Linked DNA regions of Homo sapiens. Changing the gene in region 2 together with the main gene of any one other region gives a genetic interaction. Each region holds a gene or a part of one and is shown on either strand. Other genes may lie near its edges.

Region 1 (3,333 bases), on a different chromosome or scaffold from region 2:
ACATTTTCAAAGCACACCTTTCATTTGCATTTTTCATTTTGTTCTAGGAGCTCTTTGTTCAATGCCTAGCCACCTATTCCTACAGACACGGCAGTGGAAAGGAAAAGAAAGTACTGACTTACAGTGATTTAGCAAACACTGCACAGCAATCAGAAACTTTTCAGTTTCTTGCAGGTACTTAGTCTTTGAAACATTCTGGTTAAAAAATGATTAGTAATCAATAGCTCTTTCCCCACCCCTTGCCTCCCTTCTGCTCTCACGGAAAATTAGACTTTTTGCTACTTTTTCCAAGCCGCAAAGTACTATGAGTTGTCACAGGAAGATACTTTTAGTCTTCTCTGTTTGAATGTGTTTGTCATGTGGTCCACCTAGAACAATAGTGAAGCCAACAACATTCACAAGATGTTGGTTGGCCGCGTATGCTGGGCAGTCCTTTACTCTCTACAGGGACCCTGCCTGCCACTGAAGGGAAAACTCAGGGTGGGTCTACATGGCCGTAGTTAGAGCTTAAGTCTACCCTGGGGCTAGCCTAGGCTATCTCAGGTAGTCGGGCAGGGTTGCTCATAAAAGCAGCTCATAGAGACACCATGGTTTGTACTCATTGGACTGGAAAGAGGCCTATAGCGTTCGTTAGGAGACAATGCTAGTTTCTTTGATATTTTACCCAGAAATGCAGCCTGAATTTCATCTTGTTTTGGAACCTCTTATAGAGGTCAAAGCAGGAACTAGTACATTTTGAAATGTGCATTGCTGTGTTCATAGTCTACCATAACCAATTGCTGATGTACGCTTTATGTTTTTAAGATATATTACCAAAGAAGATTTTAGCTAGTAAATACCTGAAAATGCTTAAAGAGGAAAAGAGGGAAGAAGATGAGGAGAATGACAATGATAATGAAAGTGACCATGATGAAGCTGACTCCTAAACCAAAAGTGCTTTAAAAACCAGCCTGGCGAGGACAGCCCTGGACCCACTCCACTGTCTCTAAGTAAACACAGCACTGCCCGCTTTTAGCGTCTTCACTTCTTCACAGAGTTCCAGTGTGTGGTATTCTTTCGAGGTATTCTTTCCAGGCCGAGATTGAGCACCTCATGTACCTACGCCACAGACAGCCAGAGGGAAAGCGACCCAGACAGCAGCCCCTCCTCGACAGGCCCACCCTGCAGCTCAGGCACCAAGAAAACAGCCGATACTGGCAGCCATTGCAGCTCCAAACTGCAGAGGCAAGGCCAATTTTAACTTTTCAATTTACAGTCGATTTTGAAGAGCTTCTACATATCGGTTATGTAAATTCATATATGTATATTTTGGAATCAGTTCTTATAAACAGCTCGATTCAGTTTTAGCTAAATTTATAGTTTAGGTAGTATGTTACATTTGAATTTTTGTCTTAAGAAAAGTTGACTGTTCAGATATTTTTCTACTGTAAAGAAATATACTTTTCTATTAAAGATCTGTACATATTTTTACAGTAAAATGCTTTATGGAACTAGTTTTAGAGCCCTCTATGGCTTTAAGGCCTTGCTTACTGCCTGCAAATTTTGAGAAATTTAAAAATAAGCATTCTAACACTTTTATTCCCACAGAAAAATTCCAAGTCAAATTATCAAATCAAATACAAAAATAAGTCTTACCTCTTGTATAAGCATGTTGTACTAAAAAAAAATTTTGAAACATTTTGTATATTGGAGATCTCTCTCATCTTACTGTTCTTTGCTTTAAATTCCTGGCACTTCTTTTTACTGTCTATAAGAGAAAACCTATCATAAGCCCAATTTTTTTTTTCCACTTAGGGTAAATGTTTGGCTCCTCTCATTTCATTATCTTTTTTTTTTTTTTTTTAAAGACAGATTCTCACTCAGTTGCCCAGGCTGGATTGCGGTGGCGCTGTCTCAGCTCACTGCAACCTCCGCCTCCCAGGTTCAAGTGATTCTCCTGCCTCATCCTCCTGAGTAGCTGGGATTACAGGCGTGTGCCACCATGCCCAACCTATTTTTGTATTTTTTAGTAGAGACGGGGTTCACCATGTTGGCCAGGCTTGTCTCAAACTCCTAACCTCAACTGATCCACCTGCCTCAGCCTCCCAAAGTGCCGCCGGGATTACAGGCGTGAGCCACCATGCCTGGCCTTCATTATCTCTTTTTTAAAAATGAAAAAGTTTATAATTTACATTCAGTAAAATCACCCTTTTTAGTGTCTAGTCTGTGAATTTTGACAAATGCATGGTTTTGTAACCAATCGATAGGACAGTTCTGCCACCCAGGACATTCCCCTCTGTTCCTCTGTTCCTCTCTTCTCCTGCCCCCTAGCAACCACTGGTGTTTTCTGTCCCTCTTGTTCATTGACATTTATTTTAAAATAAAATATTTTAAAATCTACTTTTTGGTGTACAGTTCTGAGTTTTGGCAAATGCAGTCAAGTCACTACCACCACCACAATTAACAGCTATATCACCCTCCAGTAAATTCCCTGTGGTCAGCTCCTTCCCCACCTTTTACCGTGGCAACCGTCAAGCTATTCTCTGTCCCTATACCAGGTGTCATCAAATTTTTTTCTGGAAAGGGCCATGCAGTAAATAGTTCAAGCTTTGTGGGCTTTTATAGTCTCTGTTGCTGCTGCTGAACTCAGCTGTTGTAGCACGAAAGCAGCCAGGTAATTACTAGATGAAGGAATGCAGGTGGCTGTGTTTCAATAGAGCTTTATTTCTGCAAACTGAAACTTGAGTTTTGTGTAATTTTCATGTGTCATGAAATACTGTTTTCTCCAACCATTTAATAATGTAAATACTTGCTAGCTTATGTGCCATTAAAAAATGACTTGATTTGGCTTACAGACCAGTTTGGTGGCCTGTCTTTTCCAGAATGTCATATAAATGGAATCATTCAGTATGTAGCATTTGAGTCTGCAGTTGTTCTGTTTAGCAGAATGCATTTGAGATTCATCCGTGTTGTCACAGGTATCAGCAGTCCATTCCTTTATATTGCTGAGTAGGATTCCATTGTATGGATGTATCTGTTTATCCATTTTCCAGGTATATGGATAATTACCCATTTAGATTGTTTCTAGTTTTGATGATTGTAATTTTTTTTTTTTTTTTTTTTGACAGGGTCTCACTCTGTCACCCAGGCTGGAGTGCAGTGGCATGATCATGGCTTACTGCAACTTCCGCCTCCTGGGTTCAAGCGATTCTTGGGTCTCAGCCTCCTGAGTAGCTGGGATTACGGGCACGGCGTCACCACACTTGGCTCATTTTTTTGTACTTTTAGTAGAGATGGGGTTTCACCATGTTGGCCAGGCTGGTCTCGAACTCCCGACATCAAATGATCCGCCCA
Region 2 (3,500 bases):
AGCTTCTCTAGTTTTGTGTTTTTAATGTTCTGAAATTCAAAACAGCAGGGATGGCCTTCGCCGACGCAGGAGTCGGGCATTTTAAAATAGGCTGTTTTTCTTTTGGAGCGTTCTTCTTGAAGGATATTCTTTGTGCAAGACGGCGATTTTTGAGAACACAGGCAGGAGGGAGGGGGTGTTTTAATGTATGTTTTTACTCCATGATACCAAAGCTTCCCCCCAGGATCCCTTTACAGTGGTTAGTTCCTGGAAACCTGATGGGTGGTCAGAAGGCACCCCAAATCTCGATTATGGTTTGCTGAAGTCTTGACTGACTCAGTACCTGCCCCTCCCTCCATCTCTGAAATGTGGAGAATTAAAAGCTATGCCTGTGAACGGGCGTTCAGTTTTTAGCCGGGAAGGTGCTAGACCACTTAACTCTGATAGAAATAAGCTGCTGAGCCCTATCAGGGAGGGCGTTCTTTCAGCTGTTGTCTGGTGGAGAAATAAAGACAGGGTGTTGGTTCAGTTGCAGGTATTTTGCTGGCGTATTGAGAGATTAGAGTTTCCTCTTTGAGTGTGATGGCAGTAGAAAGAGTGTTGTTTATCTTAGAAAACTTAGTTTCTGAAGCAGAGGCAGTCATATGGATGTGTTTGTTTTGTATCACCATAATGTGAACAGAGCATCTAAATGAAGGCGGTTCGGAGGTTCTGAGTGATAGCCAGATAATCTGAGGGCTATTTTGTTTTTAAAAAGTCAGCATGCACTTTAAATTTATTGTACCCATCTCCTTAAAAGGATTCAGTCATCTTTCTACCCCAGGCATCCTGTTGTCACAGAAATGTAGGTATGTGAAATGTTGGTGTTTAAAGAAGTTAGTGTTTTATTACCAGAAGGAGAACCCAGAAAAAGAACTTCTGAAAGAACCTAAACAGCAAATTATAGTTTAGATCCTCTGGAGAGACATAGCAAGCAAATGGTGTTTTGTGGAAGGGTGGGGTTTGTGTCAGGATTTGAAATGTAAAAGGTCATAATGTTTGATTTGTCGAAAAAGATTAGAAAAGTTCAACTCTAAGAAATATGCTAAGGTTGAATAGATGAAGCTTAAAAATATCACAAAAAGTGAAAGAAGTCAGTCACAAAAGACCACATATCGTATGATCCGGTTTATGTGAAATGTCTAGAATAAACAAATCCATAGAGGCAGAAGGTAGATGAGTGGTTGCCAGGGGCTGGGGGCGGATGGAATGGGGAGTGACTGCTGGTGGGCACAGGGTTTCTTTTTGGGGTGATGAAAATTGTTCTAAAATTAGTTTGTGGCGATGGCTGCATAGCTCTAAATATACTTAAAACCATTGGATTATGTACTTTAAATCGGGGACTTTAATGGTATGTGAATTATATCTCAATAAACCCTTTTTTTTTTTTTTAAAGAAATGTGATCAGGTTGAAAATAACTTGTTATGCTACCTTAAATTACGTTAAAATTATTACATACATTTGACAGGCTGATGTCTCTCTCTCTTTTCATTTATGAGTTTTTCAGATCCGTGAGTTGCAGCAATACAACAAACTGATAATTGAAGCTTAGCAACAGGGATTCAATCCCGCAGTAGAAATGGGCAAGCAGGAGAAAAAGAATCTTGGTTCTATGTAGCTTCAGTTAGGGATTGAGGAGCTGGATTTAAAAAACACAAATGCTGGTGGAGGGCAGATTTTTGACAATAGAAACCTCAGCTGAATCTGAAATGATGGTTTTTTTCAGGATAGAGTTTAGGAGCTGAGTCTGAAGGGCTGTTTGTATTTCCAGTTTTATTATGTTTTCCAACAAAGAAAGACATTGCTGTTTTAAGATGTTTTAAACACTCATTTTTTGATATGCCACATTGACCACAAGTGGTAGTAAGGACTGAGGATGAACAGAACAGTTCATTTTAATGCAGTATTGTTGTTTCTTTTCTTTGCAGTTTTATTTTATTTCTTACATAGTTCCAGGGTCTGAGCAGGAGAAAGAATCTTTAGGATGCAGTAGTTTTAGGATACACTGTTTCAAGTATACAGTGATTTTTATAAAATTAAAATTCCTTACAGAACGAAAGGTTTTAAAATGTGGCAAAGGCATTTTTGTTTTGAAACTGTGTGCATTTATCCAGATTTACCCTGGCCTTTCAATAGGAAAAGACCTAGAGAATAATTGTTGTTTACATTTGCTTTTGGTCTTTGTCTAAGGCTTAGTTTACTAATAAAAATGTTTCCTGCCCTTCCTATTGTTGCAAGATCAGGGCAGTAATGAAAATCAACTGTATCATTTTCACTTGTTGCCTTAGAGTTTTTGCCAAGAGGAACCCTCAAGGGACGGTGGTTTCCTTTTAAATCTGGTTTCATTTGTTTTGTAAGAATGTGCTGTAAGAAGCAACTGAATCCAGCCTGCACTTATTGTGCACCTACTGTATGAAAGCTGACCTTGTGCTACTCAGTGCATGAACCTGCAGAGTCTTGCATGAAACCACCTTTCTTGAAATTCAGATTTTTTTTCAGACTCAGTATAGGGTGCAGTTTTCAAGTAGACAGTAGTTAGCATTTTAAAGGTTCTTTTAAAAATATTTCTGTAGACTTAGGACTCTAGTGTTGTTCATCAGAAGCCTTTACCCTATACCTTTTTTGCCTCATTGGTGCTTTCCGTTATATTGGGATGTCACTGTAGACTGTGACATACAGGTGATGTTAACCCATCTTGACTGGCGGCACTGTCTTCTTTATAACATTGGATATGGCAATTGTGATTTACAAACTGCAGTGTTGTAGTTGCCTTTTTCCAAAAATTAGGAGTCACAGGTGTGTACATGAACGTTGCATAGCATGTTTTGAGTTGTAAGAAAGATGGAACTTATTTCAGAAGTTTTCTGGATTACATATTGCTTAGTTAGCTTTCTAGAAATCAGGAAGCATTCATAATTTCAGGGCATTTTATAATTTGTAAATAACTTGGTGTTTTTAAAAGCGTGAGGGAGTAAGAGTGAGGAGACAAATCCTGAAAGTTTTTGTTTTTTAATTGTAAAGCATACAAGATACATTTCTTTATAGGTTGTGATTTTCCCCAATTTGTTTTCAAAACTCATTTAAAAATCAGACCTAGTTCATGGAAGAGGTATTTGCGCCTGTGGGCGAACTTGATTTGAACTGCTTTTCTTAGCCAGCTTAGGACAGGTGCTGAGTCCAGGGGATGAGCTCTTCTCAATTGTACTAAATATATAATAGTTGCACACATGTTACGGATATAGTTTCTTGATTTCCAGTCTGAGATGTTCTGAAGGAAAATTCTGAACACTTTAGAGACAACAAAGTGCCTAATGAGTGATGCACTCTGATCCCTCCTGGAAAATGGTGTTTGGCATCAGCTTAGCAAGAGGAGGTTTTCCAGTTATTTGTAAAGATGTGATGTGGCTTTAAGTGGGGATGGGGGAGGGTAGCAGCCCCAGTGTTTGTGGACATTGAGACCTGTTGACATTTGGGAAGCATA
Region 3 (3,500 bases), on a different chromosome or scaffold from region 2:
ACTTGAACTGTGTAAGAATTTCTATGAAGGTAATTTATATGCTGGAATAGAAGATGGCTCTTGGAAAGGTCTTGATATTTATTGAACAGATGAGAATAGTGATTCCATAGATAGAAACATGAAAGCTGTCTTCCTTTACTCATCTATGAGGATTGTTCTCTTCTGGGAAGGCAGATGCACATTCACTTTGGGACGTGCTGAGTTTCAGTGGTAGTGGACTTGTCCTCTAGACAGTTGTGGATATAAGCTTGTAATTAAGGAAATAAGACAGAATAGGACAACTGTATGTGAGAGATACTAGCAACAATGGTATGGTGAACGTGGAAACAAATACATTTCCAATGAAGTGAACAGAGAGAGAAATGAAGACCTGAAAGAAAGCAAAGGAATGGGGCTGGGCTTGGTGGCTCACACCTGTAATCCCAACACTTTTGAAGGCTGAGGCAGGAGGATCACTTGAGCCCAGGAAGTTTGAAACCAGCTTGGGCAACGTAGTGAGACCCCATCTCTACAAAAAATAGAAAAATTAGTCTAGTGTGATCGTACATGCCTATGGTCCCAGCTACTTTGGAGGCTGAGGTGGGACTATCCCTTGGGTCCAAAAGGTTGAGGCTACAGTGAGCCGAGATCATGCCACTGCACTCCAGGTAGGAAAAACAGGAAGTAACCAAGCAGGATGAGAAACAGGAAAGATTATAGCATCACAGAAGCCAAGTAAAAAAAGGCTCTTCAAGAAAAGGAGGTGATAAACAGTAGTGTCCAGTGCAACAAAGAACAAACTGTTTCTCTGGGAGAGGGATAGCTAAATATTTTCAGAAAACAGTTTATGTGTAGTGAACTGTTATATTATGGCAGCAGTAAGTGGATAAATGCCTCTATTTGGCATAAAAAATACTTCCTTTTATTAGTAACCCTTCATAATGCTTCAGTGTTTGTGGAGTTATACTAAATGAGCTCCAAAGCACTTGGCATTTAGGGTTAGCAGACATCTGACATTTGATGACCCCTGTTCACCTTTTTCAGGAATACAACCAGTTCTGTGTAATAGAAGAAGCATCCAAAGCAAATGAAGTTTTAGAAAATCTGACTCAAGGAAAGATGTGCCTAGTTCCTGGCAAAACAAGAAAACTGTTATTTAAGTTTGTTGCAAAAACTGAAGATGTGGGAAAGAAAATTGAGGTTAGTTATGAAATTTGTTTTAAAATATTTTTAATAATAAAAGTATGTTTATATCAATATTTTAAATAATACAAAAGTTGATTAAGTAAAAAATGAAAATCTGCTACTTGGACTTCCTAAAGGAAACCATTCATAATAGTTTGGGAAGTTTCCTTCAGACATTTTTCTGTGAACATACTTGTAGTTTAAAATTTTTTGCAATTAAAAAATTGAGAATATACTGTACATAATAAACTGTAGCTGGCTTTTGTCATTTAATAGTGTATATTAGATATTATTTCTTGTTAGTATATAAACCAATCTTGTTTTTTAATGACCACATAATCAGTTAAGGAGTTTTAAATAATGTATATTATGTAATATAGCAAATATATTTTTTATGTTATTCAGACTGAATATCTTTTGATGTTTAAGCATTACTGAGTACATATTTTTAAAGAAAAATGAACATATATATTTGTAAAGATTGATATAGTATAGATAATTGAAATGCCTTTTAGAAATATAGGATCTAAGTAATATCTTTATTGAGCATAAACTCTGGAGCCAAACTGTATGGGTTTAAATTACAGCTCTCTAGCTTATTAGCTTGTGGCCCTGGGCAGTTACTTAGCTTCTTTGTGTCTCAGTGTATTCATCTGTAAAATGGGGATCATAAGAGTACTAATCTCTTAGGATTTCATGAGGATTAAATCAGCTAGTTAATGTAACTTGCTTGGAATAGTGATTAGCACACAGTAAGCATTCATTAAGTGCTTGTTTTTCATGACTTGAATGGGAATGGTTAGCTCATCTAAACTTGGGACCATTGCTAAGATAAATGGCATATAAAGTTATACAACCAGTGTTCCCATAACAGTTTCTGTGAACATGTTGCTTTTATTATTTGCTTATTCATTAAAAAAAAAAAAACTTTCATGATTTTGACTAAATGCCCTAATTGCATATTTTATTTTTTCATGGTACCTAAGGGAACCTACCAGACATAAATAATAATTAGTAATTCTATTTTGAGTCCTTTTGTTAATGGTTTTAGTTGAATAGATCATGTATTCAATTAATAAAGCATTTTATTGCTAATACTGTAAATATTTTTGAGAAAAATATTTGTGGAGTCGGAAATGAGGTTATAATGTATCCATAGCCATCACAATACTTATTTCATTCAGCAACCACTAATTGAACCTTCATTACATCAGGGACTATGCCAGATGTTAAAATCATAACACTACTGTGCAATCAGCCTGTCAACAGAAAGTCAGGTTAGTGTCTCTGTTTTAAAGGTGAAGAAGTTGGAACCCAGAGCGCAGTTAGTCTCTGTCCCAGCCCGAGTAAGACCTCTAATAGCAGGTGTTCTCACTTCTGTCACACTGGGGGTCTCTAGATGAACTCCATGGTCTTAGCAGTCGACGATGTAATTTTGGTGAGAGGAGATGGTGACAAGCACATATGAGATGACATTTCCAACATCCTTTTTTTTCTTTTTAGATTACTTCAGTGGATCTTGCTCTGGGCAATGAGACGGGAAGATGTGTGGTTTTAAATTGGCAGGGAGGAGGAGGAGATGCTGCTTCCTCCCAAGAAGCCTTACAGGCAGCTCGGTCTTTCAAAAGGCGACCTAAGCTACCTGACAATGAAGTTCACTGGGACAGCATTATAATTCAGGCAAGCACAATGTAAGTCTGCTTTGCTAAGCTGATATTAAAGGTCATCCTCTTATTTCTTTTGCTATTTTTTTTGGAGACAGAGTCTCTCTCTTGTCCAGGCTGGAGTGCAGTGGTGTGATCACGACTCACTGTAGCCTTGACCACCTGAGCTCAAACCATCCTCCCACCTCAGGCGCTACCCTTGCCTTCCCCAGTAGTTGGGACTACAGCCAGGTGCCACCATGCCTGACTAATTTTTGTATTTTTTCTAGAGATGAGGGTCTTACTATGCTGCCCAGCCTTGTTTCAAACTCCTGGGCTCAAGCGATCCTCCTGCCTCAGTCTCCCAAAATGCTGGGATTACAGGCCTGAGCCTCTGCACCCAGCCTCTTATTTCTTTTAAATACTTTATTTGAATAATTTATTTGCTTTTTTTTTGATCAGTTACTTAGCTAAGGTTTCTTTTCAAAGGATCATATCCAGAGTCCCAAACATTTCTGTACATCTGCTACATGAACCCCCTGCACTGACTAATGAAATGTATTGTTTGGTTGTGACTGTTCAGTCCCATGAAAAGACCCAAATCAGAGATGTGAAGCTCACCGCTGGCTTAAAACCAGGTAAGCATTCCTTTTTGTAAGTTTGATCAGTATTAATCCAACATTAAATAAGCAT
Region 4 (3,500 bases), on a different chromosome or scaffold from region 2:
TCCAACTGGCTGATCAGTTTTTCTGTCAGAATCTAAGAACCTTAACCTTAAAATAATCTCAACTTATTTCTCAAGCACCATTATATGTGTGTATATTATATTTAAATGTACCAATATATTTATAGCACTAGAAAAATATGTATCTTTTAATGCATTGAGTTACTAGACAGAAGTATTAAAAAGGCAAAAATTCCTCTTTAAGGAAATAGCTTACATCCTATAAGTGCTCTTACAGGTAATGAAAAAACTGTGTCTGCAATTTGTTCCCTAATATGTCATAAACCAAAAATAGGCTCTTGGGAGAAAGTAATATCTACTCAACATAGCTGGTATTTAAAGAACTTAAATACTGAATTTCAGTACTGTCTCTGTCATAAAACATTGTATTTCCTGGGGCAAGTAACACCTTAACAATGTTTTATAAAAAGCATCAGCAGTTAGCATATGGGTATGAAAACACTTTGCCATTGAATTTCTCATAGATGGTATTAAAAAGTGTCCATTCATGACTATACAACTTTTAAAACCCTAGACAAATAAAAATCCACATGCACTCACTACAAATAAAATCTACACTCTCATCAGACAAAATCTACATTCTCAATACAACCCCAACTGCAACGGCCAATAAATTTACACAAATAAAAATATAATCCAACTTGCTAAACAGGACCCAAACGTATTATCTCGTGAGACACCAGTTATGATAAATTTTGGACATTCTATTTCATTATTCTGTAGTTTTGTTTGTTTGTTTTTGAGATGGAGTCTCGCTCTGTCGCCCACGCTGGAGTGCAGTGGTGCGATCTCGGCTCACTGCAAGCTCCGCCTCCCAGGTTCCAGCGATTCTCCTGCTTCAGCCTCCCGAGTAGCTGGGACTACAGGCGCCCACCATCACACCCAGCTAATTTTTTAAAATATTTTTAGTAGAGACGGGGTTTAACTGTGTTAGCCAGGATGGTCTCTATCTCCTGACCTCGTGATCCGCCCGCCTTGGCCTCCCAAAGTGCTGAGATTACAGGTGTGAGCCACCGTGCCTGGCCTGTTTGTTTGTTTTTAGAGATGGAGTCTTGCTTTGTTGCCCAGGCTAGAGTGTAGTGGCTATTTACAGACACAATCATAGTGCACTGCAGCCTCTAATACCTGACCTCCGGCAATCCTCCTGCCTCAGCCTCCCAAGTAGTTGGGACTACAGGTGAACAACACCTCGCAAAGTTCTGTTTTTTGTTTTTACACTTTGTATTTGCTTTCTTACAATATTCTATTCAAAACTTTGGTCACTAGCCCAACTCCTTTTTGAGGAACACATTTAGAAAACAATGTCAAAAGCTTTATGGATATACAATTAAGGAAACACAGCATTACATAACTATATTTAGGCAAGGGCAGTTTCACCCACTGTTTACTGAGTAAGAGTGAATAAGGATGGTCTCTCTCCATTAACACAATGCATGGCTCCTGCTAGCATTTGATAAATTTGAACTATTATTACTTGAAAGTGCAACTGTTCAGCTGGAGCAAAATACAGGCAATACAACTTACTGGACATTTCATCTGAGACGAGTAGATCTGGATCTGCTCCCATCTTCATATTTGGTATTCCCTCAGCCCATCTCTGTATGGAGGTGAGGTGGCTTTCATTCAAATATGTGCCCCTGTCAGACATACACTGGGTCATGCCACCACCAGGGCTTCAGTGGAGGAAGTCACGGTGAGCCTGAAGGCCTGATATCACCTACCAAGAGCCTCAGGGAACCCAGCCAGCAAAGCAGCAGCGGCCTTGCTCTTATGACATAAAACAGTTTTTGGAGAGTGCCCAGAACCAGGGTGACAGAAAACTCTGTGAGGGTTTCAATAAGGTGCTGAAACAGTGCAGACTTGCAAACAGATTGGTCTAATCAGAAAGTTCGAATTGGAGAAATGGAAAATCAGCTCTCATAACCAAGTGATTTAGCACAAAAATACAATTGATAGTGAAGGTATAAAGTGTAATCATCAGGTAAACCTCTCCTCTCTCATAGCGTCCCTGCTTCAGGACTGCAATGGAAAAGGAAATTCTTACTGTGTAGAATTTCATTAAGATGGCTGGGTAGATGTTTGTGTGGCACCCTTGAACTAGCCGTTATGATTTTATTCTTTGTTGAGTTAATTAGAATAAAGTGATTTTCCTCAAAAAACAAACAAACAAATATGTGCCCTTGTCAGACTGTTCCATCGTGATACCCCCACGATAAACCATGCCTGTTAAAACATATGGTTCCGTGATTCACCAACAACAGAAAACAGATGCATTCAAGGAACTTGTGAGGAAGCACAAACTCAAACCCCACTGCTGATAAATTCATTACAAAAGATCCACTGAGAAAGTATGGAAGGTAGGTGAAGAATGTGCAATCCACCTACTCATCTAGATAATCTAAAACAGATCCTTAAATCAGCCTAGAGATCTAAGTACTCGGATCACATTATTTTGCAGGCAAGAGAAATGCTTTTACGGAATGTTTTGATGTTATGTCACCGTCTTACACAAAAAGCCAATAAGGAGTTTTACTAACACACAAAGTAAAACTCGACACCCAGCCCTTTGAAACGCATGCTGGAAAGTCTTTGGGAATCCAAAGCAGAAATGATCTCTTTTGTCGTATGGTCACTGACCCATGTAACTGATTATATTTCTCTCTTAATTGGCTACTCAAAAGCAAAGCCAAATTTGTGGCCCTCTGCACTTAAGACTTCAGTCCAAGTGCTCTGTGTACACAGCTCATTCCTGTTTCCATCTTAATTTTCCCTCAGTCCTGCATTCCTCACCCACTTATCTGTTATGTTACCAACAGTATGTCGCACGTATCTTTGTAAGTCATTACAAACCCTTTCTGGAACAAGATGTGGAATAATGGAATAAGTAAATGATATGTTCCACTGAAAAAAATTATAGCACAATAAGAAAACATTTTCTTCGATTAATAAACATTTTCTATGTTCAATTTCTAATGGCATTTTCTTTTATGTGCTCCAAAGTACCTTCTAAAGGAAAAATGAAAGTGCTTAAAATTAGAAAATTCTAATTTTAAGAATTTAAATTTCCTCTGTACAACAGAGGAACTACAAAAATAAAACTTTCACTATGTATTTTTAACTGCAAAGCACACAGAAAATTATAAATATACCCCTATGTGAAAATCCCCCAAAAGCGATTTTTAATTTTAGCATACAGACCAAATCACCATAAATTCAATTACAGTTGTGTATTTATTTTGAATGGGAACTGAACAGACTAGCTTCAAATGTGGTTCATAAGGTCTTTGTACAATTCCTCCTGAGTTGTTCTGTGCCTAGCATAGAGGATGCTGCCAAACCATTCCTTAGGGTGAAACAGCAGAGAATTTAGAGCCCTCAAAACTCTTGTTACATTCCTGCTTCAGAGATTTCAGCAATCTGCTCACTGTTACTGGGGGAAAATTAAAAAGCTTAATACTCTCTCAGTGTGTAATATTTTACGC
Region 5 (3,500 bases), on a different chromosome or scaffold from region 2:
AAGCTGAAGAGACAGGGGCCAGGGCTGCTGTAGCTGGGACCAGGCAGAAACAGGACAAGCAAAACTGGGGGCGGGGAAAGATGGAAACGGGGCAGAAAGGGCAGCTCAGACTGTGAGGGGACAAAGGTCACTGTGGTTCAGGAGCCTCCCACCGTCCTGAGCACACGTGTGCACCTGAGCGTGACTGTGCACGCAGTGTCTGCAACCAGACGGAGGGGGAGGGGGGAGGGGGAGGGGGAGGAGGAGGGGGAGGGGGAAGAGGAGGAGGAAGAGGAGGAGGGACCAGGAAGGCAAGGCACACAGCGAGAGGAGCGCAGGATGGAGAAGACCTGAGGGGACTGAGAGGCGAACGAGGCAGCGGCTGGAGCGGGCGGGCCGAGGGTAGACGTGGGAGGGCCAAGCAGGGACCCGCACAGACACTGTGTGCCCGAGACACAGGCGGGGTCCCTGACAGGGACATGGCCATGACCTTCAGTCAGTGGAGAGGAAGAGGGAGGAGGTGGCGGGGAGGGGGACACAGACCCGTCTCAGAAGATGCAGAAAGGCCAAGGGAAGGGGACACACTCTCTGGGAGGACCCGCTAAGCAGCGCCGCAGCGTCTCTCCGGCCCTCCACTCGCCTGACACCCAAGGGACACTTTCAAAGCCCAACAGCTAAGGACATGTGGCCACGTGCTGGCCCCGAAGTGCTCTGTACACCAGTGTGGACTCAGCGACACTCGCCACGTCCCGTCCACACGGGACAGGACAGGACGCGAGGAGAAGGGGCGCCAGCTCTGGGCAGCCGGAGGGGGACCGGGAGGATCTAGAAGCAACCCTCAGATTCCCGCGCGCTCAAGTTTCCCAAGATCAGAGGCAGTATTGGAACACAGCATCGGTGATGAAACAACGTATTTAGAAGTAGACATTTTCGCAAACTGCAGGAGTGTCTGAAACCACAGGGCTCGCCTGGTCCGGGCACAGTGCAAGAGGCGCTGGGTCCTGGGGGAGGCGCCCTGAGCGCTGTCTAGGAATGCGGCTGTCAAGAGGCGACATCACCACTGAGGAAGCGGGACAGAAACACCTGAAACTTCGTTTACACCCCACTGGAGCAAAGCCGCTCCCTCCTCTGACTGCGGGACTGGCCTGTACCTGTGTGATATAATTTAGCACCTGGAGAAGAGAAATCTAAAGAGATATCGTTAATCACACACAATTCACAGAGAGAAAAGGAAAAACAGCTTACTTAACATCACTGTACTTTACTATGAAACACTTAAGTACGTCACTAAGCATGTATGTCTAAATTAAGTTACGACTAAGACTTAACAGCGTAACCGACATGGAGGAGGAGCACTCCTAACCGTGGGGAGGGAGGTTCAAATGGCAAACTATGCTCCAGCATGGTGGGCATGCTGCGGCGCCACCTGGCGCTCGGGGCTGCCCCGACTGACCTGGGCCGGTGGTGCGGGGGCGGCACGGACGTGGCGGGCAGACCCAGGCTGCAGGTCTGCTCACGTGGCCGGCCAAAAGCAGCTGATGAACCAAAACCATGCGGGCGGGCGGGACAGACAGCAGCAGCCACGGAAAAGGGGCACAGAAACTGGGCGCCCATCGTCCCAGCTCCACAAACCAGCATGGATGGGTGTGCAAGAAGCTGAGGGAAAATGAGGGGAGGCCCTGAGGTGACTCCTCACCCCTCCTCCCACCTGCCCTGCTGACTTCAGAGAGGGGAGAAAACTGAAAAAAAAGAAAAAGAAAAGAAAAGGAAAAAAGAAAGAAAGAAAAAAAAAGCATGGGATGGATCACGGAAAATCCAAACTCCACACCGAGCCAGCTGACCCAGCTGACGACACGAAATGAGACCGGCCACACTGGGAGGACTGGATGAGGGTGAAGGAAGGTCAAATGCAGAAGGACCACACTCTTCCGGACAGTGAAAAACAGAAGCCAGGCCGAGACTCATGACAAGTCGTAAAAACTTCAAAAGAACAAGCCAAAAAACAATGTGTGACGTCTGACCTCGGGAAGCACAGACAGGCTGAATGGGGTGCACATGAGGAGCCCACGTTTTAGTCATTTGTCTCCAAATCGTCCCTTCCTGAGGCTGTTTGCTACAGCCGCCACCTGTGTGTGCCTGGCGGGTGAGATAGTTTGCCATCTGAGGGAGGAGCAGGGAGAAGGCCGAGGTCAAACTAGATCTGCCCTTACCTCGGGGCCTCTGCTTCTCGGCGTCATAGATCATGACTACCTCCGTGACCTGGAAGGAGAGGGTGGCGTCAGCACGGACACCAGGGCCAGCACCACAGGTGGTCTTCCGAGGGCACAGCCTGTTCCCACGAACCCAAACTCTCGCACAGGGTGCGCCCTCCCTGAGCGGGGGAGGTGCACGGGCAACAGCTGCTCCGTGGGGCTGCTGTCTGAGAAAGGCTGGAGCCCCAACACTCCCAGGGCCAGACGCAGGCAGGGAGAAGCAGCTCCAGGGCAGGCGTCTGGATACCCGCCTCCGGGCTGCCCGTGGCCCCGCTCACGTGTGTGCTGACGGACATGAAGGGCCAACAACGCCGACCACGCATCCTAGCAGGGGACGTGGGAGCCAGGAGACCCCACAGAAGCCCTTCCCACCCAAACGCGGGAAGCAAAGGGCACGCTCGGCCCTCACTCGAAGTGGCGGGGCAGCCACACACAGCTCCTCTGCAGACCCTGCTCTTCCAGGCCCCGCTCAGGCCTCTCATTCCTGGCCCAGGCCCGTGGCACCCTCAGGTACCACCTGATGAACGTGCGCAGTACTCAGGCACGCAGGGCTGTCCTGCTGGCGGGGCTCGGAGTGTGACCTGCGGGGCACGGCAGGAGTCCCAGCAGGACCTTGGGGTGACCACACGCCCCTGCCTTGGGTGACTAGGAGGGCTCCCCGCCGGCCCCCTCCGGCTGTCCCAGCTCCCTCTGGCACTGGGCTCAACGGAGCTCGGGCATTCTCCCACCTGCCCAGTGGAAAGTCAGCTCTGTGGGGCTGGCTCGCCCAGGCCACACTGAACCCCGTTTCTGTGTAACTGCCCTTCTCTGACACTGGACCCCACGGTGTTCACAATGGAATCGGGCGGCCGCCCTGAAGGCTGTCAGGCTGGTTCACCGCCCAACCACCCTACTGGGACACGAAATGGCCATGAAGGCAAAGGCCGGGCTTTCCACCTTTCCGGAGGGCGCAGGCGTTGGGGAAATACGAGACAGCGAGCTCCCAGCCTGAAAGGCCCGTGCACCTGTGGCTCGGCCACTCCAGCCCCAAGAAGGCCCAGGCCTGAGCAGAAGCGGCTCTGTCCCCACAGTGCTGCCGGGGTGGGGAGAAACTCACCACTCCGAACTTCTTGAAGTATTCCCTGAGCTCTGTCTCACCACAATTGTGAGGAATTCCACCGACAAATATCTTATTTGATTTACTGTTATCGCTCCTGGGTCCTTTCTGCTGTTGAAGAAGGGAAGGATAGTTAGTTCACACGGGAACCCTCCAAACCCTCCCGCGAGCTG
Region 6 (3,500 bases), on a different chromosome or scaffold from region 2:
GCCAAAGTATCCCTGAGATCTGCAAGGGACCGAGGACAGTACTGGCTGGTGGTCTGGGTACAGGCCACAGAGGCATCTGGACCCCATGTGCATCTGGACCAGTTTGGTTGGATCCATTCATGGACACAAAACGGATGTGAACTCACAGAGCTACATTTTCTCCCTGCCCCTGTTCAGGCACAGTGAGGTGTCGGGGAATGTAGCTGCCAGAGTTGACTGTCCCGTTCTTTGGTGTAATGCCTGAAGGCCACCTTTACCATTGGTCTGTGGTCCTCACTGAAGAAAGAAACATTCTTCCTAAAAGACTTTTTTTCCTCAGAGTTGGAGCCCACAGCGTGGTCAGGAAAGAGAAGTAGCCACTGGTGGCTCCTGGCATCCTCCTGCTGGGCAGCCCCTTCTCAAAGTGTGAGGGGTCCCCTTGTGTACAAGCAGGAAGGCTCTGAGAAAGTCAGGTTTGCTCCTACCACAGGATAATTCCGATGAACCTGAAAAGCGGGTTTTGGCTTGTGTGCAGGGACTCTGGTGGAAGAAAGGGTGACAGCACCTGGCCTGGGCATGACACAAGTTAGGACCCGTACCAAGAGGCCCTGGAATTGAGGGTGGGGGTTGCTGTGGACTCTTTCTCCCTCTTAGGAAACTCTATTGGGTCTCCATCTGTCACAGAAGCAGTAAATGATGTAGGGGCTGCCAGGTATAGGGTCCTGTGGGGATGCTGGAACATGCCGAGGCAGGACGTGCCAGCCACCCTCTGCCCATATGTGCAGCAGGGCCACAGATGTGCTTGTCGGTAGGAGAGACCAAGCTGTCTGTGTGCCGATGTCTTGACACCTGAGACTTCAGGTTCACCCATCCTGGTTCTGCCATTCCATTGCAGGGTGGCTTCCCTCCTTTGGGGACTCTTAACGCTTTGGTCTGTTAAAAAAAAAAAAAAAAATCCGGGCGTGGTGGCTCACTCCTGTAATCCCAGCACTTTGGGAGGCCGAGGTGGGCTGATCATCTGAGGTCAGGGGTTCGAGGCCAGCCCTGACCAACATGGTGAAACCCCGTCTCTACTAAAAATAAAAATAAAAATTAGCTCAGCGTGGTGGCACGCGCCTGTAGTCCCAGCTACTCGGGAAGCTGAGGCAAGAGAATCTCGAACCTGGGAGGCAGAGGTTGCAGTGAGCCGAGATCGCACCTGAGAGGTTGCAGTGAGCTGAGATCAAGCCACTGCACTCCAGCCTGGATGACAGAGTGAGACTCTGTCTCAAAAAAAAAAAAAAAAAAAAAAGCCACCAATGGGGAGGGCCTGGGATTACTGGCATCACAAACCCCACTGCCTGCAGGCTGCATGATCTCCTGGGCATGGTTGGCGGCACTGCCCCGGGCATGAGGAGGCAGCAGGCATGTGTGGATCACGGACAGTGCTGGGGTCGAGGGGGTTGGTGACGGTGTGACACCCCTTCCCCTGAGTGGCTGGGTGTTACTGTCAATTCTCCCAAGTGCTGTGCTTCAGTGGTCGTGGCAGTCTGGTGCTGCCTCTGCCCAACTGGCAGGCGACCCTTATTCCTGAGTCCCTGCTGACTTGGTGTCCTAGGTTTATTCCTCCTAGACTTGTTAACTTGTACAGTTAACAAGCCTTTGACACCACACACCCTCGCCTCAGCTTTCCAACCCCCTAGTAATAACAACATCAGGACTCCCTGAGTATCCTCCACCATATGTTTTCCTGGAGTAACTCATAAAAGGCCCTCTTTTCGTTCCATTTCATGCTTGGGTTTTTCATGCGAACCTGTCATTATTAGTTTTTCCGCATTGCCTAGAGTTGCCCAACCCCATAATAAGAATACGTAGGTGGCGTGCCCCATTCTTGCAGGTGTCCACTTCCTGCTCCAGTCTGAGGGGGTTGGCTAGGCTGCTGCTCTCTCTCCATGTGGGGTTGGCTAGGCTGCTGCTCTCTCTCCACGTTGCTGTGGGCTCGCATCCTCTCCCTGGTTCCCTGGGGGAGCTTCTTAGGGAGGGAGCATGTGAGAGATCTGAGGCCCTGCAGTTTGGGAGTTATTTTCATTCTCCCCTAACACTTGTTGGATACTTTGGCTGGGTATAGAATTAAAGGGTTTCGAAAGCAGTGTTTCAGAGTCTTCCATTCTCTGGGGCATCAGAGGTGTCATTTGCCCCTGTGCATTCTGGAGTCCACCTTGCACCTTTATTGGGTCTCATCTAGGTCCTTGGCTTTGCGCTTCAGCCCTTTGAGGCCGAAGCCCAGATTCCTGGGTCCCCACTCTGGAACAGGGAAAAATTTCACCCCGTAATTTCGTACGTTCTTTCTTTTTAGGGTTTCTGTTGGTTGATATCTTAAGTTACTCCTCATCTTCCTTTTTCATTCTGTTTGTTTTTGTTCTGCCTTCTGAGCACCTTCATTTTGAATTTTCCTTTTCAGCTATTTGTGTATCTATCAGGTTTCTCTCCTTGTCCTTTGTTAAAATAGTATTCTGTCTTCAGTCTCCTGTCTTGGTTGCCTCCTTGCAGATTCCTTTTATATTTGGGTCTCTTATGTTGGTGGCCTTTCAAAGGCAGACAGGCCTGTCTCTTGGTGGGGGGTGGGGGTGGGCGGAGCTCCAGTTGCTTGTGTGTGGATCTGCTGGGGCATATAGAACTCTCAGGAATTATTCTGGAATTTCATGGCTCAAGTGTGTTGTCATGGCTCAGCGCAGGCCTAAGCCCTGCTGCAGCTGCTCCCCTAGACCAAGCTTGTCCAACCCTTAGGCCGCATGTGGCCCAGGATGGCTTTGAACCCGACCCAACACAAATTTCTAATAAAACATTGAGATTTTGGGGGTTTTTGTTTTGGTTTGGTTCACCAGCTGTTGTGTTAGTATATTTTGTGTGTGGTCCAAGACAATTCTTCTTCCATTGTGGCCCAGGGTAGCCAAGATTGGACATTGCTGCCCTAGGCAGTCCCAGCTTCATCCCTTGGGTCCCAGGCGGTCCAGTTTTCTCTGCCTGGTCAATCATCACATCCAAGGTCTTCCTCCCTTTTCTCTCTGCCCTTCAAGGCGTGTGTGTCATTTTGGTGTCTTCATTGGTAGTGGTTGCAGGAGTGGACTGAGAGGGCAGGTATTCAGTCTCTTCTGTGCTCCATGGGTGGTGGTCTTCCTCTGGGCTTAGAAAACCTGGCCGTCCCCAAAAAGGGAACACTACAGTGAAGGTCCTTATAAATTTCAGAACTCATTTAAATTTCAGAATAGGTGACATGTTCAAAACCAAGAGCAAAGTGTCCAAAGGACACTGATCCAGCTTGAAGGGGTTCTGTGGCTCATCTGGGATGATGGCAGTGTTAAATCAGACACGGGCGGCCAGTTCACACCCACTGAAACACACAGGCATGTGTGGGCTCTTGCTGATGTTGAGAAATGGAGAAGAGGCATTTCCTTGCCGTAGCGTGCTGGGGTGACTGGATGAGAGAGTCACCAGCGGACAGTCATGGCTGTGATTCAGCCAAAAGCCACCTGTGTGTGGAA
Region 7 (3,500 bases), on a different chromosome or scaffold from region 2:
TTTTGTATATCTGAAAAGTTCCATGTCCTATAACAAAATTCTTGATATTAAACACAGTATATTATATTGAAAAACAAAAATTCCTCATTCAGGTAAATGATACAGTTACAATTCAGACTAGCCCCAAAGGTAGCTCAGGAGACTTAATCAAGACAATGCTAAGAAAACCCTCCATGGGTAGCAACTATGGTCCAATGTTAAGACAGGCCAAAAAGTTACAGATTTATACTTTAAACAGCAAAATCTGTCGGGACTTTTTTGAGGGAAAGGATCTAGGGACTATTCACTAAGCAAGTGGGCACACAGCATTTTGCATCCACTGCCACTTCCTCCTCCAATAAAAAGGGCTCTGGATCTTTCTTACACGTCAACTGGTGTTACACTGCCTATTACTTTTGCACTTTATAGTTTACAATATGCTTATCAAAATCTTCACAGACAACCTGATTTTTCTCAGACACATGAGTAAATTACAAGGGTGAAAGTTGCTCTAGCAAAGTCTTCTTCTAAAACATTGTATAAATAGGCACAAACATCTTACCTTAATATCATAATGGTCCTTCAAACCATCTTCAACATGATTTAGAAATTCAAAGATATCAAGTCTATCAAGACAACTGTCTAGAAGTGTGTACATACACTCAAATGCTGCCTTTCTAATATCCAGACCATCATCAACCGTATGTTTAAATGGACCCATTTCTACCTGTTAAAGCAAAAAAGAACGTGTGGATATACAATACTTAAGTCAAAGACAAGCTCAAATAAACAGTGTGATCTAACTTACCTCTCTTATAAGCTCCTTTCTAACTTTTGTTTCATTGTAAAGATGTGGAAGAACAGTATCCAATAGATCCCTTATTAATGATGGCTTGTTATGTGCTGCTGAATTAAATGTGACCAAGGCTACTCTTCTCACATTCAAATCTGGGTCTTCCAAAGTTTTTAGGAAATCACCTGAAATATTACAAGAAAAGCAACAGACAGACATGATAAACTTAAAATACAATATACATTATATTTTCTCTAAGTTGATATAATTTATTTTTGCTGGTGTCATTGTTATTTCTTCAGTGACGGTCAGGGAAGAACCTGATGAAACACTAAGTGAACCATAACGTTTCTTTCAGCAGCAACGCAACTATCATTTCTGAAGGTGAATATATTTTCAATTGATAATCCACTCTCAGCACTTATAATGCAGAGGGTATGGAAGAAGAGTCCATAAAGTTCCTCAATATCACTTCTATAGATATAAGATATGACAGAGACAGAGCTAAAAAGACTAATCACATGCTTGATTCTCCTTGTAGTTCACTAAAAGCAGCAACAAAAATATTTTTAAACTAAGTTCAAAATAAGAATAAAAAAATGAAGTGAAGACAGACCCACTGCTTAATAAAGATGGAGTACTATTAGCAGATATACAATTAATCAAATGAAAGAGAAACGTGCCTCCAAAAGCCCTACTTTATTTCTGTCTTCAGTAAGAAATACACGAATTCACAGGAAAATAATATAAAAGGAGAAAATTGAAAGCTAACATAGGACAAAAGCCAGAGAAGCCATCTAGGTATTTTAAAAGTCTGCTTACTCTTGCAAATGTGGGCAAGAAAGTATAATGCAAAGATCTTTGGAGTCACATGGTTGGTGGTTCAAATCATTTTACTTGTTAAATGTATGATTTTGTGCAAGTTACTTTAGGCAAGAACCTCAGTTTCTCAGTCAATAAAATGAGGATTATAAACCTTTTAGAGCTATACTGAGCAGAATAAACGGCGCATATATTGTTGAAGACAATGTCTAGTACACACTAAGTATTCACATGTAGCTATTATTCATCATTATATGATCTCAACTCTATCATCAGCAATCTTTTAGAATACACAGGGAAATGTAGGAGAGATAAAAGACTTGAATGCCAACTTGAAAAACCTGCAATTTGAAAATATGGGAGGAAAGAGAGACTTCAGATACTGTAGATTGGGAAACCCAATGTTGATATCCAAGAAAGTTCCAGCACTGATTTAAAAAAAAAAGTCTGAGAAACAGCGTGGTTTCAAAAACAATATAAATGTACCAAACTAATCTCCCCTCCCCTTTATTTGCATACTAAACTGGTAGATTAGAAGAGTAATTACAATAGAGTATATATCCGCTTTCAGTAAAGCATCTAAAATATTGCTATTATGGACAAAATGGTGTCATGAACTAGCAATTTCAATTTTTAAAAAGTTTCCCAGGTGGTTCTGATGTTCAAATAGTCATGAATACTTAACTAGATCATAATTCAATTAGAATGCTAACTACCTGGCTGAGTAACTGTATCAACAATGCATACTGGTTGACTGCTGTCAACATGGAAAGATATTTCTAGAGATATGGCATGGGCCTCTTCCTCTGTCCTATTTTGCATAATACCAATGTCCTCAATAAACATATCAAAGCAGAAAATGTGTGGGGGAAATGCCAATAAGTTGTTTCTCATATAGACTTTAAATAATTTCTAGGCCCTAGCAATAGAACCCATTTGTGCCTGTGCTTTCCTTATTCTGAATTGGCAATCCCTTTCTATGCAGTTCAAATTTTATATTGTATTTTTTTTCTTTCTGGCACACTGAAGAATGGCACAAAGCTACAAAGCTTCTTTGCCAAATCCCTCAATCCTCCCTGATGGTTATCTCCATTATCCTGTCCTCAAGAAAGCAACAAACTAAATTCTGAGGTGTTTTTGGCTATTATCAAACTCTAGGAAAACCAATGATAAAAACAAAATGCAAGGAGGTTATAAAATCAGAAATAATCCCAAAAGCTAATTCTTGTCTTCACAGAAATAGAGAAGCCCTAGTTTTTCTTGGGTTATCTCCTCTTAGTTCTTCTGGGAATTAGCTCTCCCCCCCTTTATTTTTTATTCTTAGGTTATTTTGACCTTAAATATGGAAATCTCCATAGATCTCCTTGGGTGTTAGAAGTAATAATTGAAATTTGAGGCCTTAATAGCTCAAGCAAGACTCATTTAAATCTAGGGAGAAACTTCAGACTGGCCATATAAATCTAGTATCTTTTTGCTTTATCCACTAAAGCTATCTTAGGTCACCCCAAAAATATGGCTATCAAATATGTAGTTGACTCTAAAGACATGCTGGTATATTATAACTTCATTTATGTGCAAAATCATCTAGGAATAATTACAAACAATACAGGCAAATGCAATTTGTTAAAAGTTGTAAGATCATATCAATTTTCTTTTAAACAATTATTTTATAAGCATTTTAATTCCTCGATATTTCTAGTTACTAAGTTCAAGAGTTTCTTGAGAATTCTAAAGTCCAAAAATCAGTATGTTTATCTTTGTTTCCACTTACCTATGCAGTTCTTTAACAGTGGATCAATAGGTTGTGGATGGTCAGAAATTGTAAATTTCACAGCCGTAACCACTGAGCTTCGGGCATATGATGAGCCTAGTTAAAAATAAATTGCAAGTCTATTGGTATGTAGTC

What was found.
Region 1: changes in IGF1R (region 2) and CHRAC1 together harm fitness less than expected from each alone (positive genetic interaction), as found in Homo sapiens cells (one large-scale study listed by BioGRID).
Region 3: changes in IGF1R (region 2) and TRAPPC11 together harm fitness less than expected from each alone (positive genetic interaction), as found in Homo sapiens cells (one large-scale study listed by BioGRID).
Region 4: changes in IGF1R (region 2) and RABGEF1 together harm fitness more than expected from each alone (negative genetic interaction), as found in Homo sapiens cells (one large-scale study listed by BioGRID).
Region 5: changes in IGF1R (region 2) and DAZAP1 together harm fitness less than expected from each alone (positive genetic interaction), as found in Homo sapiens cells (one large-scale study listed by BioGRID).
Region 6: changes in IGF1R (region 2) and ARF1 together harm fitness more than expected from each alone (negative genetic interaction), as found in Homo sapiens cells (one large-scale study listed by BioGRID).
Region 7: changes in IGF1R (region 2) and CAND1 together harm fitness less than expected from each alone (positive genetic interaction), as found in Homo sapiens cells (one large-scale study listed by BioGRID).

Annotation. Positions count from the first base shown.
Region 1 is NC_000008.11:140,514,322-140,517,654, forward strand, and holds the end of CHRAC1 (chromatin accessibility complex protein 1), read left to right. Parts: intron 1-47; coding exon 48-174; intron 175-804; coding exon 805-926; 3' UTR 927-2,833; downstream 2,834-3,333. UniProt on the Homo sapiens protein: Forms a complex with DNA polymerase epsilon subunit POLE3 and binds naked DNA, which is then incorporated into chromatin, aided by the nucleosome remodeling activity of ISWI/SNF2H and ACF1.
Region 2 is NC_000015.10:98,651,539-98,655,038, forward strand, and holds part of IGF1R (insulin-like growth factor 1 receptor isoform 1 precursor), read left to right. Parts: intron 1-3,500. UniProt on the Homo sapiens protein: Receptor tyrosine kinase which mediates actions of insulin-like growth factor 1 (IGF1). Binds IGF1 with high affinity and IGF2 and insulin (INS) with a lower affinity. The activated IGF1R is involved in cell growth and survival control.
Region 3 is NC_000004.12:183,690,293-183,693,792, forward strand, and holds part of TRAPPC11 (trafficking protein particle complex subunit 11), read left to right. Parts: intron 1-1,023; coding exon 1,024-1,179; intron 1,180-2,667; coding exon 2,668-2,855; intron 2,856-3,296; coding exon 3,297-3,445; intron 3,446-3,500. UniProt on the Homo sapiens protein: Involved in endoplasmic reticulum to Golgi apparatus trafficking at a very early stage.
Region 4 is NC_000007.14:66,747,233-66,750,732, reverse strand, and holds part of RABGEF1 (rab5 GDP/GTP exchange factor), read right to left. Parts: intron 1-3,500. UniProt on the Homo sapiens protein: Rab effector protein acting as linker between gamma-adaptin, RAB4A or RAB5A. Involved in endocytic membrane fusion and membrane trafficking of recycling endosomes. Stimulates nucleotide exchange on RAB5A. Can act as a ubiquitin ligase.
Region 5 is NC_000019.10:1,421,086-1,424,585, reverse strand, and holds part of DAZAP1 (DAZ-associated protein 1), read right to left. Parts: intron 3,439-3,500; coding exon 3,328-3,438; intron 2,239-3,327; coding exon 2,190-2,238; intron 1,167-2,189; coding exon of another isoform or gene 1,075-1,166; exon of another isoform or gene 876-1,074; intron 1-875. UniProt on the Homo sapiens protein: RNA-binding protein, which may be required during spermatogenesis.
Region 6 is NC_000001.11:228,092,708-228,096,207, forward strand, and holds part of ARF1 (ADP-ribosylation factor 1), read left to right. Parts: intron 1-3,500. UniProt on the Homo sapiens protein: Small GTPase involved in protein trafficking between different compartments. Modulates vesicle budding and uncoating within the Golgi complex. In its GTP-bound form, triggers the recruitment of coatomer proteins to the Golgi membrane.
Region 7 is NC_000012.12:67,307,358-67,310,857, reverse strand, and holds part of CAND1 (cullin-associated NEDD8-dissociated protein 1), read right to left. Parts: intron 3,462-3,500; coding exon 3,366-3,461; intron 958-3,365; coding exon 788-957; intron 707-787; coding exon 542-706; intron 1-541. UniProt on the Homo sapiens protein: Key assembly factor of SCF (SKP1-CUL1-F-box protein) E3 ubiquitin ligase complexes that promotes the exchange of the substrate-recognition F-box subunit in SCF complexes, thereby playing a key role in the cellular repertoire of SCF complexes.